2 separate regions of the Homo sapiens genome follow, and region 2 is linked to region 1. The links come from fine-mapping of genetic effects on gene expression. A gene starts in region 1. The other region holds a variant in brackets. All regions are shown on one strand. Distances are from middle to middle. Region 1 holds the start of MYH10 (myosin heavy chain 10). Region 2 has its middle 5.4 kb from the start of NDEL1.

Evidence for each region. PIP is the estimated chance that this variant, and not a neighbour inherited with it, causes the effect.
Region 2: its variant is the best candidate, but not a certain one, in a credible set for the expression of MYH10 in sigmoid colon (GTEx, PIP 0.79).

Annotation. Positions count from the first base shown.
Region 1 is chr17:8,629,047-8,633,434 of GRCh38, forward strand. MYH10 (myosin heavy chain 10) reads right to left here and starts at 1,679. Exons shown (of 43, transcript NM_001256012.3): 1 at 1,608-1,679. RefSeq lists enhancers at 52-830, 831-1,608, 1,609-2,386, 3,085-3,379 and a silencer at 1,871-2,550.
Region 2 is chr17:8,428,285-8,432,672 of GRCh38, forward strand. It overlaps a transcript of NDEL1 not described here. Among named protein-coding and RNA genes, the nearest start is that of NDEL1, 5.4 kb to the right of the region's middle. The variant C/T (reference allele first, on the strand shown) is at 2,399.

The DNA.
Region 1 (4,388 bases):
CCAGAACCCGAGACAGGCAGGGCATACTTAAACATCAAAAGCAAGGGACTCAAAGAATAATTAATAAAGGCAGATTGATGAAGGAGATAAAACAATAAATAGATTATAAAGTTTTCCAGAGTGAGATACTATCAAGAATAATTAAACCTGACTCAAAGAATCCTCAGTTTCAACGTTAAAAAACAAAATCTCAGCAAAGCCAAAGTATTATGTTTGGTATTACATTATTCAGCGAAAACAGCAGTCTTTGTTTCATCTGCAGTCTGCATCTACCCCGCCTGCTTTCCCCTACCCCACCCCAGCCCACCCCACCCCCTTCCATCCACCGCAGTGATCTTGAAGGGAGCTGCAGAGGCCCTAAAGAAACAGAGATAACGGCTGTAGGCAGAGGCCACGTTATCCAAACCTCACCAGCCCGGTCTGACCCGCCGAGTCGCCAACCTCCTTCCTAAGGCCCTAGTTCCAAACAGGCCTGGCTGGGGGCCTCCCGCTTCCCAGGGCCGCATCCGCCCACCACAGGCCCACAAAGCCCCCACAAATGCCAGGACTCCGCGGCTTCAACTTCCCTCCGAACCAATTCCAGTCCGATTTTATGGGATCAGGGTGTGACCCCCAACTGCAGAAGGCAATGAAGAGACTGCGGCGAGCCATTCCCAGCTCGCTTACACAATAAAGGGATCCCGAGGCGAGTGCTGACCCTCCCCCCGGCCGTCCTGCTGCAGCGCGCCCCGCCACATTTCCCGCCTCGCCCCCTCAAACCGCCTGGGCCTCGCAGGGCGTCCACCCCCGGCCTAGGCGCTCCACGGAGGGCGCGGCAGGACGCCCTCCTCCCGCGCTCCTTCCCCGGCGCCGGCGGAGTCCGACCCTCCCCACGCCCGCGGCCGGCTCCGGAGCCCCTCACCCGCCGCGCGCTTCCCCGGCCGCGCAGAGCCAATGCCCTCCTGTCCCTCCACCCACGGGTCGGGCGCGCGCCGCCCGCCTTCCAAGCCCATGGTGAACCCCTCTGGTGCTGCGGGGGACCGGTCGCGCCAGGCCTAACCCACCCAGCAACCCACGCAGGGGCCCTTCCTGCCCAGCGCCCCCCCACCCTACCGCCGGGACTGCGCTTTCCAGCCCCGCTTAGAATCCCCTCTCTTCCTGGGAGGCAGACACTGGCTCGCGGGGCACGCCGAGACCTCCGCCGGGACACTAGCCCCTCGACCTCGCGCCCCCAGGGATCCCACCCACCGAGAACCTGGTCCTCACGTCCCCACCCCCAGATCTCCATCCCCCAGCCCCCCAGGGGTCGCCCTCCTGCACACCCAGGCCCTGACCCCCGCGGGTTTCACAAGGACTTCATTCCCCGCTCCTCCGGGAGTCTCTCCATCTCCACCCACTGAGGTCCCAGTGCCCCCAGCCCAGGACCCTGCTCAAACTAACCTAAGGTCCCCGCAGCACAAACCCTACAGCTCAGAAGCCCCTCTGTCTTCCCCAGCTCCCGCTTCGGTCCCCCGTTCCTGTCCTCCAGAGCCGCCCGGGACCCCTCAGCCCAGGAGCCATTCCTCCCTCCACAAACTGTCCCCCAGCCCTGGGCCGTGCACTCGGACCCGGGTAGCCGCACCTCTCACCTTCAGCCGAAGATGGTGGCGCGGGCGCACGTCCCCAGCCGCGACCACAGATCCAGCGCCTCAGTCCCAAACCCACCGCTGCCTCCGCCGGGCTCCTTTAGCACTGCTGCTCGGGGCTGCCCCACCCACCCCTACCCTCATTGGGCCAGCTCCACGCCCATCACCGCCGCCCCCAGACCCACTGGTTGGTTTGCGCGCCCATCTCCAAGGGAAGACGTTAGCAACCCGAACGAAGCTACCTTCCCGAGTCCGGCTCCCTCCACCCACCTGGAATGACGCTCATTGGCTCCCGCTCCCAGCCCAGGCCACAGAGGCCCCAATCTCATGGGCTGGCTCTTACGCCCGTCATAGGCTCCGGGAGGTGCGGCCGGGGCAGTGGCGCGGGATTGGCTGGCTCGTGCGTAGATGGACAGCTGAGGCTGGCTGAACGCCCGGCGATCCCGCGAGGCTGCGGGTGCGGGCCCCGCGGCGGCCGGCGCGCTGCGCTGACATTGGCTGTGCGGGCCGCGGGGCAGGTGGGCCGCGGCAGGAGGCTGGCGCTCTGACTGCAGACTCCTCGTCCTAGCGTCAGGCAGCCGCCGCAGCCGCAGCACATTCGAGCGCCCGGTCGCCCCCTGTGCTTGCGGCAGCCGGCATGTACCGCAGCGGGACGGGGTTCCACCGCGGAGTCGCGGGCCCTCAGCGTTGCCTGCAGGGGCGGGGCGGAGCGCGGTCCAGAGTCCTGACGTCACCCCCGGGGCTGCGCGGGGTTGGGGCCGCGGCGCTGCGACTCACCTGCAGTGGGGGAAGGAACGCGGGGGAGGGCGCTGCTCCGCCCATGCGCACAGGGTTTGGCCCGGGACCCGGCTGCGCTCCACGCTGCGGCCACTGTCCCGACCCCGGCCCCAGGCGGACTCTGCCGGGATCGGCCGAGCGCCAGGCGCAGGACACGGTCCTCCAAGGTCGCAGTTTTGGTGTTAGCGGGGTGAGAGGCTCTCCTGCCCAGCCTCCAGGCAAGGCTGAGATTCCAGAAGAATGAGAAGAGAACCGACCTTGGAGAGAAAACTTGGAAGAAACTTTATTCACCTCATTCATTCACTCGTTCAGTCGCTCCTTCATTCATTCATCAGAGCTCCCTACGTGAAGGGCTATGAGAGGTTCTTAAGAATATAAGGCTGGATTCCTGTAGCGCTGTCATATCCCCTAGGGCTTATGAAAACGTTGGAGACTGAAAAACAGTGGCCCCAAAATAACGAAAGGAAACTGGAAAAATCAAAGTAAATAAAATTTAATGAAATGTCTGCAGAATCTAGGCAACTGCAACAAAACTCTTGCATAATTATATATAAATATAATAAAGTCTAAATCACATGAACAAAATGAATTATTCATACAAAACCTGAAAGTCAAGATCATAAAAATTCACAGCAAGATGCAGTTATTAATCAGTTATTAATGTAGGCTATGGGAGCATTTTAATACATGTGATAATGATGTGTTTGCCTAAGCCTAGGAAACGTCTAGTCTGGCAAAAAGTGAATTAAGCAAAAAACAAGGCAGGAAGTCCTAAGGAAGGGTTGGTGGAATTCAGAAGAGGCTGGAAGGCAGCTGAGTGCAGAGTCCTTCCTGGGGAAGTCCGAACCAGGCTCTGTTTTGTCCTTTGTCCTGCTGCATCTGGTCCCCCACCCCCACCTGCCTGCTGGGGTACTACCCCGTGTCCAGGTGTCTTGTGACTTGGCTCTGTGAAGAGGTCTGTCCTTCTAATGCAGTCTGCACATGGAGTACAAATTAACTTTCCAAAATATATGAATGATATTCCTCTAATGAATTTTAAAATGTGTTTAGAGAAGACCAAAGACTCCCTCTCTGAGGCCTGAGTCTCCACTTTGTCAGCCACCGAAGTCATTTCTCAGTGCAATGTTCTATGCTTAGTGCATCCACTCGCGAATAACACTGTAAGCCACAGAGTCAGTAGTTTCTCATAATTCAAAAACTTTTGCATATATATGTGTATATATATGTATATATGTATATATATGTGTGTGTATATATATTTTTTTGTTTTGTTTTGTTTGTTTCTTTGAGATGGAGTCTCGCTCTGTTACCAGGCTGGAGTGAACTGGCATGTTCTCAGCTCACTGCAATCTTCGCCTCCCGGGTTCAAGTGATTCTCCTGCCTCAGCCTCCCTAGTAACTGGGACTACAGGCGCGCGCCACCACGGCCAGCTAATTTTTGTATTTTTAGTAGAGAGAGGGTTTCACCATGTTGGCCAGGATGTTGGCCTCGATCTCTTGACCTCGTGATCCGCCCGACCCGGCCCCTGAAAATGCTGGGATTACAGGCATGAGCCACCGTGCCCGGCCAACTTTCACATAATTTTAACACAAACTCAATGGACCATCAGAAGAGGAGGGCAGGAAGTTCACCAGAAGGAAATACCATAAAGACATTAGTCTTGATGAGAAATTAATAATAAAGAGAATATCCCCAAATGTATCTTTCCCCCTGGTGGCTCTTTGGCACTTGGGCCCTACATGTCCAACTGCCTGGATGAGAGGGGGACTGCAAAAGCAGAAGGTACCAAACCTATTTTCTTCTATCACCCTTTCCCACTACTCAAACTCTCTCTTCCCAACTTCTTTGTGAATGGAACCACTCTTGCAATCTCTTTCTTTCCTTTCTTTTTCTCCCAACACCTAGCCCCACTATATATCTATCATCCATCCCAGGCAGCCTCCTCTGACTCCAGTTCCAACCATGTAGCTTCATCCCAGAATTTGCTGCCATCTTGATGAAGAAAG
Region 2 (4,388 bases), 200 kb before region 1:
TATAAAACCACTTCTCGCCTCAAGGCTCAAGTGTGTGTGGTGTGTGTGTGTGTGTGTGTGTGTGTGTGTGTGTGTGTATTTTTTTTTTTTTTTTTTCCGAGACAGAGTCTCATTCTGTTGCCCAGGCTGGAGTGTAGTGGTGTGACCTTGGCTCACTGCAACCTCCGCCTCCCAGGTTCAAGCAATTCTCCTGCCTCAGCCTCCCGAGTAGCTGGGATTACAGGCATGTGCCACCACACCCGGCTACTTTTTGTATTTTTAGTAGACATGGGGTTTCACCATACTGGCCAGGCTGGTCTCGAACTCCTGACCTCGTGATCTGACCACCCTGGCCTCCCAAAGTGCTGGGATTATAGGTGTGAGCCCCCATGCCTGGCCCCAAGTGTATATTTTTAAGATTTTTGTTTTTTTGAGATGGAGTCTCTTTCACCCAGGCCAGACTGCAGTGGCATGATCTCGGCTCACTGCAAGCTCCGCCTCCCAGGTTCACACCATTCTCCTGCCTCAGCCTCCCGAGTAGCTGGGACTACGGGCTCCTGCCACCACGCCCGGCTAATTTTTTGTATTTTTAGTAGAGACGGGGTTTCACCGTGTTAGCCAAGATGGTCTCGATCTCCTGACCTTGTGATCTGCCTGCCTTGGCCTCCCAAAGTGCTGGGATTACAGGCATGAGCCACCGCGCCCGGCCTATTTTTAAGATTTTAAAAACACATTATTATTAATATTATTTAATTACAAAAGCAAAGGATATTGCATTAGGGATTATAGACGCTATGGCCTGGGTTTAAGATTTAGGCTAGAGAAAAGGCATAGTTGCCTATGACCCAAATCTTAGTTCCTTTGTAACCTATATCATCTAAGTTCAGCCTTTCATACCAGCGAAAATCTCTGTCTATGGTGACTTTTTTCAGGATTTGGGGTATTTTCCAGAATGTTCTGTCAGTCTTGCCTTTGAAGTTATAGCCACCAGACCATTGGTTCATTCTTTCACTTTCGTTGAAGCATATTAAATGAGTGTTTGCTAAGTGCCTGTTGCTGGGGATATATTAAGACAATCAACACTGTCCCTACACTCAGTGAGTTTTGGTTTCTTGGGGGAGATTGGACATCTCTGTAACCAAAAGGCCATGTTTAATAAGTCTCTTGTGAACTGTGTAGAGCTCCATGTGAGCTCAGAGGAAGGAGTGCTCACTTTGGGACTTTGAGTATCAGGGAAGGCTTCCTGGAGGAGCTAGCATATGAGTGAGACTTCAAAAGGCAGAGGAGAAGGTGGGTTGGCCAAGCCTAGGCAGCAGCTGCAGTGTAAAGGGCAGGGGAAGTCAACAAGATAGGCCCATAGAGGAAGGGAATCATCTATTTGGGGGACCATGCTGGTGGGTCTGGCCAGACCTAGAGAGGTGATCCATAGGATATAGACCGTAGAAGTGGGCTGGAGTTGCTTTGGGAAGGCCTTGAGTATGAGACTACTTTGTTCCTTATCACAAAGGTAACAAGATGCCAAAACAAGTTTTGGAGGCAGGGATGCTCTGCATACAGTGAGATTTTAGAAAGATTATTCTTATGGTTATGTGTGGACTGCTGGGCTGAAACAAGAAGAAATTCGAGGGAGAGAAGTTTGGGGAGAGAGGGACAGACAAATAAGAAACTTTGGATTATGGGCGATGTGGGAAGAAAGTACTGAAATATGACTAGATTTACTTGAGTTTAGGAAGGGAAAGTCTTTGGGCTTTGGTGACCACATGCGTGAGATGCAAGCTGGGGAGGGAAATGATTAGGGGGATTTGATGAGTGCCTTGTGCTTCACTGACTGGAATGATGGCACCATTGGCAGAAACATGAAAATTGTTTTGGAAATTTCTGTTGGGGCAAAGGAAAATCTGTTTGGGGTTTCGGCATGTAGAGCTGGAGGTGGTGGTGGGACATCTGGTGGACATATCTGCCAGACCATTAGCAACTGGCCAGTCAGTGGGTGTCCCTTGCCCAGCTAGATCTATACCCTTAGAGATTAGCAAAAAATGCTGGCCAAAGGAATAGAGAGAGATTAGGTTGAAGCTGATTTTGAGATGTCTTGCTCACCTGATTCAGTAGAGTTAAGTATGCCCCATCTCGTCAGAATTTCCACAGTGGGCCTGTGTGCATTACATATCACCTTCTGTGAGTGTGTGATGTGGCCGAAGTCCAGCATCTTTACTAGCTAGGGTTCGGGCTTGTACCCAGATCTCTCTTAGGGTAGCCGGTCAACCTCCACCCTTCCCAGTGGTGGAATCTGGCCTCTGTTTCCTGAATCTCAGAGTTTGTGACAGGAGAGATGTTGGGATCCTCATGCATGCTCTCAGGGACTGTGACATTAACCTCTTTGGCTCAATCCAAGAAAGACCTTGTACTGGGACCCATGCCT[C/T]GGCAAACCCCTTCCTAATGATTTATAAAGGCAGAGGGTAGGGCAGCCCTCACTCACCTTTTTTACCACCACAAGGGCTGGTTTTATAACTTCTGTTCCCTTTCGGGGCTGATTTCCATCTTCCTTTCCACTTTATTTTTTCTGGATTTGGTATATTGGAAGCAGGGGCTGGGGCAAAGGTTGCTGATGGTTAATTGCCATGCCCAGCCCCTGGGCCCATCTCCCAGGGAGAAAGCTCAACCACAAGGGGGAAGGAATTACATCAGTTTGGGCCCTTCGGCACCTCTTAGAATCCTGCCAGGCAAAGCCCGTTCATTAAGATAAGGCCAATAGTCCAGTCCTGACAAACACCAGTTTTGGGTCCAGGCCGCGTGGGAGGGGTGGCAGCTTGGAAGATGATGCCAACATTTTCCGAGGGGCCTGGCCTGCCATTAGATGACTCAGTGCGTTTCCCAGCACCTCAGCCAGGAGGCAGGGAGAGAGCCGCAGCCCTTATTAATTTTTTTCCTCTTGGGATAGGACTGTTTTGTCTTGGCACCAGGTCCACAGGAAAGCCTTCATTCATCCCCTCCCTGTCTGTGATCTCATCAGCCAGAGCACAGCTTCACCCAGGGAAGCAGAGCCCCAGAGCCTGAACGAGCTGTACCAGTCCATTGTCCCAGGCCACTGGCCTTGAAGTAAGACCTACTTGAGTTTAAGCCCTAGCTCCTCTGGGTCTCAGTTTACAATATGTACAATGGAAGCAATAATCACAGCCTCACAGGCTCATTGTGAGGACTGAGGGAGGGAAAGCATGTAAAGCACTTAGCACAGTGCTCTAGCCCAATACATGGTAGTAATTGCTAATACTCCCCCTTCTTGAGTAGCAATATAATAGTTGTTAATAGTGTGTTTTCTGGAGAGTTAGACAATTCGAACAGGGTGGGTTTGAGGCTTGAGGCCTCATCTTTCTAGTTGAGAGACTTTGGGAAACTTCATCTTGCTGAGTCTGTTTCCTCATTTAAAAAATGGGAATAACACTACCTATCTCATGGGATTACTGTGAGGATGAAATTAAGCAGACCAAGTGTTTAGCACAGTTGCCAGTGCATACAAGAGAACTTCGGAAAGTTCATAGAAAAATGGAATTAAAAGATAAAATTAAAAGATATAAACTTTATTTCTCAACGTAAGCTCCCTCAAGGTCAAGACACCTTTTTTTTTTTTTTTGAAACAGGCTTGCTCTGTCACCCAGTGGCATGATCTTGGCTCACTGCAACTTCCACCTCCCAGGTTCAAGCGGTTCTCAAGCTTCACCCACCTGAGTAGCTGGGATTACAGGCACATGCCATCACATTCAGCTAATTTTTCTATATTTTTAGTAGAGACGGGGTTTCACCATGTTGGCCAGGCTAGTCTTGGACTCCTGGCCTCAAGTGATCTACCCGCCCCAGGTCTCCCAAAGTGCTGAGATTACAGGTGTGAGCCACTGTGCCCAGCCAAGGTCAGGATACTTTCGTAACCATGATATCAGCCATTTATTTAGTACATCCCTAAAGAATTGAGGATCTGGGGATTTTAAGCATGTTAATGCAGTCTTTTTTACATTATTAACTGAAGAAAAATGGCTACCCTTTAAAGAGATATATATATATATTTATATATAAATATATATATTATATATAAATATAAATATAAATATATATATATTTAATGGCAGGCCAATATATATATATTTTTTGAGACAGAGTCTCGCTCTGTTGCCCAGGCTGGAGTGTAGTGGCGCGATCTCGGCTCACTGCAAGCTCCGCCTCCCGGGTTCATGCCATTCTCCTGCCTCAGCCTCCCAAGTAGCTGGGACTACAGGCGTCCACCACTACACCCAGCTAATTTTTTGGATTTTTAGTAGAGACGGGTTTTCACCGTGTTAGCCAGGATGGTCTCGATCTCCTGACCTCGTGATCCGCCTGCCTCGGCTTCCCAAAGTGCTGGGATTACAGGCATGAGCCAC